Linked DNA regions of Homo sapiens: region 2 is reported to be linked to region 1. The links are microRNA targets in miRTarBase. Many come from high-throughput screens and were not tested one by one. Region 1 holds a microRNA gene; the other region holds the end of a gene's coding sequence.
What was found. The annotated mature microRNA hsa-miR-3200-3p reads CACCUUGCGCUACUCAGGUCUG and lies in region 1 at 1,774-1,795, shown strand. An mRNA with a match to its seed (bases 2 to 7 or 8) in the 3' UTR can be bound and repressed. Matches are read on the target gene's strand: a 7mer-m8 pairs with bases 2 to 8, a 7mer-A1 pairs with bases 2 to 7 and ends in A, and an 8mer does both.

Region 1 (3,000 bases):
CTACTAAAAATACAAAAATTAGCCAGGCTCTCGTGGACTTCAGCTCTTGTGGACTTCAACACGTTGATTATGGGTTTCTAGCCTCCAGAAGTGTGAGATAATAAATTTCTGGGTTTTTTTGTTTTTTGGGGTTTTTTTTTGAGATGGAGTCTCCCTCTGTCACCCAGGCTGGAGTGCAGTGGCACAATCTCGCTCGGCTCACTGCAACCTCTGCCTCCCAGGTTCAAGCGATTCTCGTGTCTCAGCCTTCCAAGTAGCTGGGACTACAGGCGCATGCCACCATGCCTGACTAATTTTTGTATTTTTAGTAGAGACGGGATTTCACCATGTTTCCCAGGCTAGTCTCAAACTCCTGACTTCAAGTGATTTGACGACCTCGGCCTCCCGAAGTCCTGGGATTACAGGCGCGAGCCACCGCACCCAGCCTGGAGTTTGCTTTTAAAGCCAATTTTTATAAAGTATAAAAGTATAACATACATGCAGAAAAACTGGTCAATTACGAGGATGTAGCTAGTGAATTTTCATGGAGTGAGCACCTCCCTTATTTTGAATTTATTTCCCCCCACTTATTGTTAACAAACAGTGGCTTGTCATTTACAGGCCTGTGTCCTTCCCAAGCTAGACCATTGAGGCCAGAAAGATGTGTCGTATTTATTTTTGTATCTACTCCCTCCCCAGTTTCTAGCACAGTTCCTTTATATAGTAGCCCACAGGAAGTGCTTGCTGAATTAGAATGCAGAAGGTTGGATGGGAATTTCACAGTGAATCAGGGTCACCTTGAGCTTGCATTGAATGGAAGTTCCATATAAGACTAAGTACTTTGCTCCAGAGTGGTAGCTTTTGGTCTTTCTGTGCATCTGGATTCAGATTCGCTGCCCTGTCTCTCTCTCTCTCTCTCTCTCTCTCTCTCTCTCTCTCTCTCTCTCTCTCTCTCTCTCTATATATATATATATATATATATATATATATATAATTTTTTTTTTTTTTCCCATGGACATTTTTGGGGAAGGGCTTCTGGAAAACATAGCCCAAGGCAGGGATTAAAGAGCTAATGCTGGCCGGGCGCGGTGCCTCACGCCTGTAATCCCAGCACTTTGGGTGGCCGAGGCAGGTGGATCACGAGGTCAGGAGATCGAGACCATCCTGACTAACACTGTGAAACCCTGTCTTTACTAAAGATGCAAAAAATTAGCCAGGCGTGGTGGCGGGCGCCTATAGTCCCAGCTACTCGGGAGGCTGAGGGAGGAGAATCGCTTGAACCCAGGAGGTGGAGGTTGCAGTGAGCCGAGATCGCGCCACTGCACTCCAGCCTGGGCGGCAGAGTGAGACTCCATCTCAAATAAATAAATAAATAAATGAAAAATAAAGAGCTGACACTTTGGGAGGTGCAATCCCAGGGCAGTGAAGGAGCAATGGCAAGTGGCAGAGGAGAGATCAAAGTGACCACCCAGCTCATTCCCTTGCTGGATGAGACTTCACAGCGAGCTACAGAGACACGGTGGGTCGCTCAGCAAGCATGCTTGCCTGGCACATGGACTTTTCCAGAACTTACACAAGAAGAAAATACACCTCAGAGCCATCCGTGGAGGGAAGAGTGGGGGGAGATTCATCTGACCTGTTCTTTTCATATCCTATTTTCCACGGTGGCATTTCATACAAGCCCAGAAGTGGAGGTACGGCGTGACCTGGATGAGGCATCATCGAGAGAGACAAAGAAGGAGGTGGTCGAGGGAATCTGAGAAGGCGCACAAGGTTTGTGTCCAATACAGTCCACACCTTGCGCTACTCAGGTCTGCTCGTGCCCTCCCATGATATCAGCTCTCCTACTTCAATGTGGGAATCTCCGTTTTCCTTGGAGAACAAAAACATCCTCATTCCTTCCCTGAGCAGGAAGGTACAAATCCCATCAGTGACAGAAGCCATTTCCTGGTGCTGGCCCACTGGGGTTACCAGGAAGAATAAAGCAAGAAGGTTGTGAAACAAGGTCATCTGCTGCTGCTGTGGCCGGTCCTGGTGTGCTCATTGTTACTCATCATTTCCCTCCTGCACTACCCACCCTAGACCCTCTCCACTCTCCGCCAGCACTCTGGCTGGTCTGTGATGTTTGCGCTGAGTGGTCTGCATGTGTTGTTGGCCTTGCTCATTATCAGCCGTTACCAATCATGGAAATGTTAAGAGATACCGGTGCTAGGCACAGTGGCTCATGCCTGTAATCCCAGCACTTTGGGAGGCCAAGGTGGAAAGATCACCTGAGGTCAGGGGTTCAAGACCAGCCTCACTAACATGGTGAAACCCCATCTCTACTAAAAATACAAAAATTAGCTGGGCGTGGTGACGGGTGCCTATAGTCCCAGCTACTCGGGAGGCTGAGACAGGAGAATCACTTGAACCTGGGAGGCGGAGGTTGCAGAAAGCCGAGATAGCGCCATTGCACTCCAGCCTGGGCAACAAGAGTGAAACTCTGTCTCAAAAAATAAATAAATAAATAAAAATAAGAGATATCCCAAGGAGTCCTCTGGGTTTTATTCCAGACATTCTCCTCCCATTTCCAAATGGGCCACTCACCTAATTCCTCATGGCAATTAGGATCAGTGACCCCTGGCGGTAGAGTCACTCCCCTGGCAGTAGAGTCACTCCCCTGGCAGTAGAGTCACTCCCCTCTTTGTTGGTCACTGGCATGAGGAGCCGTAGGTGGCCAAGTGGTTGTGGCAGTGTCCAGATCAGTGGAATCTTTGTTTCACATTCCTCCCTTACCCCAGGACTAGATCCTCTAACCCAGCTGATCCCAAGTGTGTGAGGATGGGAAGCACACACCTTGCAAAGGGCAACCATGCGTGATGGTGAGCAGGGCCACTCCTGGACCTGTCTGCTGTAGCTGTGGGGGACATGGCACCAGATATCAGTTGTCAGCTCAAGGCATCCTGGAGGACAGAGGCTCAAACCTGAGGGGTATTTCTCCCTCGGTGTCCCCGCTAAGCCAGTAGGCCATTCCATTGTTTT
Region 2 (3,532 bases), not on the chromosome of region 1:
AAAAAAAAAAAAAAAAAAAAAAAGATACAAAAATCAGCCTAGCGTGGTGGCGGGCACCTGTAGTCACAGGTACTCGGGAGGCTGAGGCAGGAGAATCGCTAGAACCCAGGAGGCAGAGGTTGCAGTGAGCTGAGATTGCACCACTGCACTCAAGCCTGGGCAACAAGAGCCCAGGAGTCTCTTGGAGCCCAGGAGTGAGATGGAGTCTCCCTGGCTCACTGCAACTTCCGCCACTGCAACCCCTGCCTCTTGGGTTCAAGCAATTCTCCTGCCTCAGCCTGCGGAGTAATTGGGACTACAGGCACGCGTCACCACGCCCAGCTAATTTTGTATTTTTAGTAGAGACGAGATTTCACCATGTTGGCCAGGCTGGTCTTGAACTCCTCACCTCAGGTGATCAGCCCATCTCGGCCTCCCAAAGTGCTGGGATTACAGGTGTGAGCCACCATGCCCAGCTGACAAAGGAAAACATTTAGTGAAGTGTAAATATAAAGTTTTTTAATCCAAGTCAAAAAAAATCTCCAAAGAATAAAATGTGAGGTGGGATGCAGTGGCTCACACTTGTAATTGCAGCCCTTTGAAGGCCACAGCAGGAGGATTCCAAGTCCAGCAGTTCAAAGTTACAGTGAGCTTCAGTGGTGTTACTGCACTCCAGCCTGTGTGACAGAGCAAGACTGCCTCAGAAAAGATAACATTCAAAAACAGCAGCGATTAGTGGTTAATATATAAGGATCATATATTGCCATAATATATAAAGACATAAATGGTGGGCCTAGGGGCTTGTCACACTAAAGCTGACTTGAAATTGACCATACTCAGGGATGTTATGGTGTAACTCTCTAAAACTAGAGATTTAATACATTTTTTTTCTTTCCCCCCAGAGTTTCACTGGTTGCCCAGGCTGGAGCACAATCGTGCGACCTCAGCTCACTGCAACCTCCATCTCCGGGGTTCAAGCAATTCTCCTGCCTCAGCCTCCCAAGTAGCTGGGATTACAGCATGCACCACCATGCCTGGCTAATTTTGTATAGTAGAGATGGGGTTTCAACATGTTGGACAGGCTGGTCTCACTCTCCTGACCTCAGATGATCCACCCACCTCAGCCTCCCAAAGTGCTGGGATTATAGGTGTGAGCCACCGTACCCAGGCGAGATTTAATACTTCTAAAACCAAGCCTGGTTCAGTCTAGACAGGGTACTGGTTCTCAGTCTTGGGTATACCTTGACATCTCCTGGGAGCTTCACAATTCTGATGTCTGAGTCCTATTCTGCAGTCTGACTTAATTGGTCTAGGGTATGGACCGGAAACATTTTCAAAAGCTCCAGGTTAGAACAACTCCTCTCTAGGTCTGGTACATTCCATAACTAGTCATGGAAGACACTAAGGGTAGTCCTTTTTGATACCAAGTGGAGCTTGTATTATACCCAACTTACAGGTAGAAACATTTATGGCTGAGTATTTGCAGATACAGATACATAAACACAAACCTTAATCTAAAAACCCTGTTTAGTCCACTTCCCTCCAAATTATTGTTCTAAACAAACACCCATTTTTCCAAAACGCTGGGTGTCACCTAAATAAACTCTTACACGTTTAGAAAGAAATGCTAACAACCTCCTACCTTAAGGCCAAGTCCCTTATTATCAGCGCTTTATGCCTGTTCAGTTGGCAAAAATTTACCACATTCTTCCATTCTCAAACTAGAGCTTGGAACATAAATTACACGATCATCCTGTTTGTCAAAACATTTTCATAGCAAAATACCTGTAGGTACCATCAACTTAATCATCTTCCACTATGACAGTAAACCTACATGGCAATTACTGTTGTTTTATAAATATTCAATTTACTCCAAATCTGTTAACTGCTAAAATGTACATACATAAACAAACTCACATCATTCCTCAAAATCCATGTGTGTGTCCAGGATCTAACTATATAGTCTATCTTAACTTCAATGCCTTTTTTTGGGGCGGGGGCGGGAACGGAATCTTGCTCCGTTGCCCAGGCTGGATGGAGTACAATGGTGCAATCTCGACTCGCTGCAAACTCCACCTCCCAGGTTCAAGCGATTCTCTCAGTAGCTGAGATTACAGGCGGTGCGCCACCACGCCCAGCTAATTTTTGTATTTTTAGAAAAGAGGAGGTTTCACCACGTTGGTCAGCCTGGTCTTGAACTCCTGACCTCATGATCTGCCTGCCTTGGCCTCCGAAAGTGTTGGGATTACAGGTGCCAGCTACCGCGCCCAGCCATTTGAATGCCTTCCTCACTCCAGGAGAAGCTACCATGTATAGCCAGTCATTGAGCAGTATCTACTATTATTTTTGGGACTCAAAACCCAAATAATACTTTTTGAGGCCAAAATTGTAAATACAGCAATTGGAAGATGCTGAAAGTCTGCAAACTCACAAAAAAGCAAGGATTGCTTTAAAAAAAAAATGCCCAGAGTTTCCATTTCAGAAAAGTGATGGTCAGGGTATGTCAAAAACACTGTAGAGGCCTGGGTGGGCAGATCACTTGAGATCAGGAGTTTGAGTCGTTTGGCAAACATGGTGAAACCCTGTCTCCACCAAAAATACAAAAACTAGCCAGGCATGACGGCAGGTGCCTGTAATCCCAGCTACTTAGGAGGCTGAGGCAGGAGAATCGCTTGAACCCTGGAAGTGAACAGGGAGACAAGCACTGCAAACAAATACTTTTTAATGGGTTTAGTTTTTTTTTTTATTTTTTACAAATATACTGGAGAATCATGCAATGCTGCCAGCATTGGATGCAATCCGGGGCCACAAGTCTGCACACTCCTTTGCTACTGGTCCTGTAATGGCAGAACCTGCATTAAAAAAATAAAATAAAATAAAATAAAAACATGTGGGGGACAGATTAAGACATCGTCAAACACAGAAGATCCTTGGCCTGTACTTCTAGACAATCCACCCAACCTCAGAGACCTAAGGAACAAGCTGGACTGATTTCCTACCTTTCATCTCGCCTTTATTGTTCACTATGACTCCTGCATTATCTTCAAAATAAAGAAACACGCCATCTTTTCTACGGTATGACTTTCGTTGTCGAATGACCACTGCTGGATGTACTGAGAGAAGAAAAAAGGACAGCAGTCATTAACCTGTCAAGTCGCAGTGCCACCACAAAAGCAGTTTCCAACTAGACAGAATGTACACTCAGCGTTTGAGACAGTGACAGTGTAAATATCAATCTTCAAGGTGATCCTCCCACCTCAGCCTCTCTAGTATCTTGGACTACAGGTGCACACTACCATGCCCAGATTTTTTTTTTTTTTTCATAGAGACAGGGTTTTGCCATGTTGGCAAGCCTGGCCTCCCAAAGTGCTGGGAGTATAGGGAGTAAAGGCATGAACCACGATCATCTATTCACATCTTAAAATCAAAGCTGCCAGTATTTTCTCACAAGTGTAAAACTCTCAGGACAACTATCCTTGCCTATGCCTTTTCCAACTTCACCTTACAGGTAGGTTATTAAGATCCCAGTATCACTGAATTGGGATGTAGAAAT

Region 2: the mRNA of RPL23 is a reported target of hsa-miR-3200-3p. Seed matches in the 3' UTR shown: 7mer-A1 at 1,218-1,224.

What each region holds. Positions count from the first base shown.
Region 1 is chr22:30,729,837-30,732,836 of GRCh38, forward strand. It overlaps MIR3200 (microRNA 3200), which reads left to right and starts at 1,721; the gene lies at 1,721-1,805. The region is part of intron 1 of OSBP2 (oxysterol binding protein 2); the gene reads left to right.
Region 2 is chr17:38,847,384-38,850,915 of GRCh38, forward strand. RPL23 (ribosomal protein L23) reads right to left here. Exons shown (of 5, transcript NM_000978.4): 4 at 2,979-3,092; 5 at 477-2,831. The coding sequence ends at 2,749. It overlaps LOC124903994 (a long non-coding RNA gene), which reads left to right. Exons shown (of 3, transcript XR_007065743.1): 3 at 882-907. Among named protein-coding and RNA genes, the nearest start is that of SNORA21B, 2.5 kb to the right of the region's middle.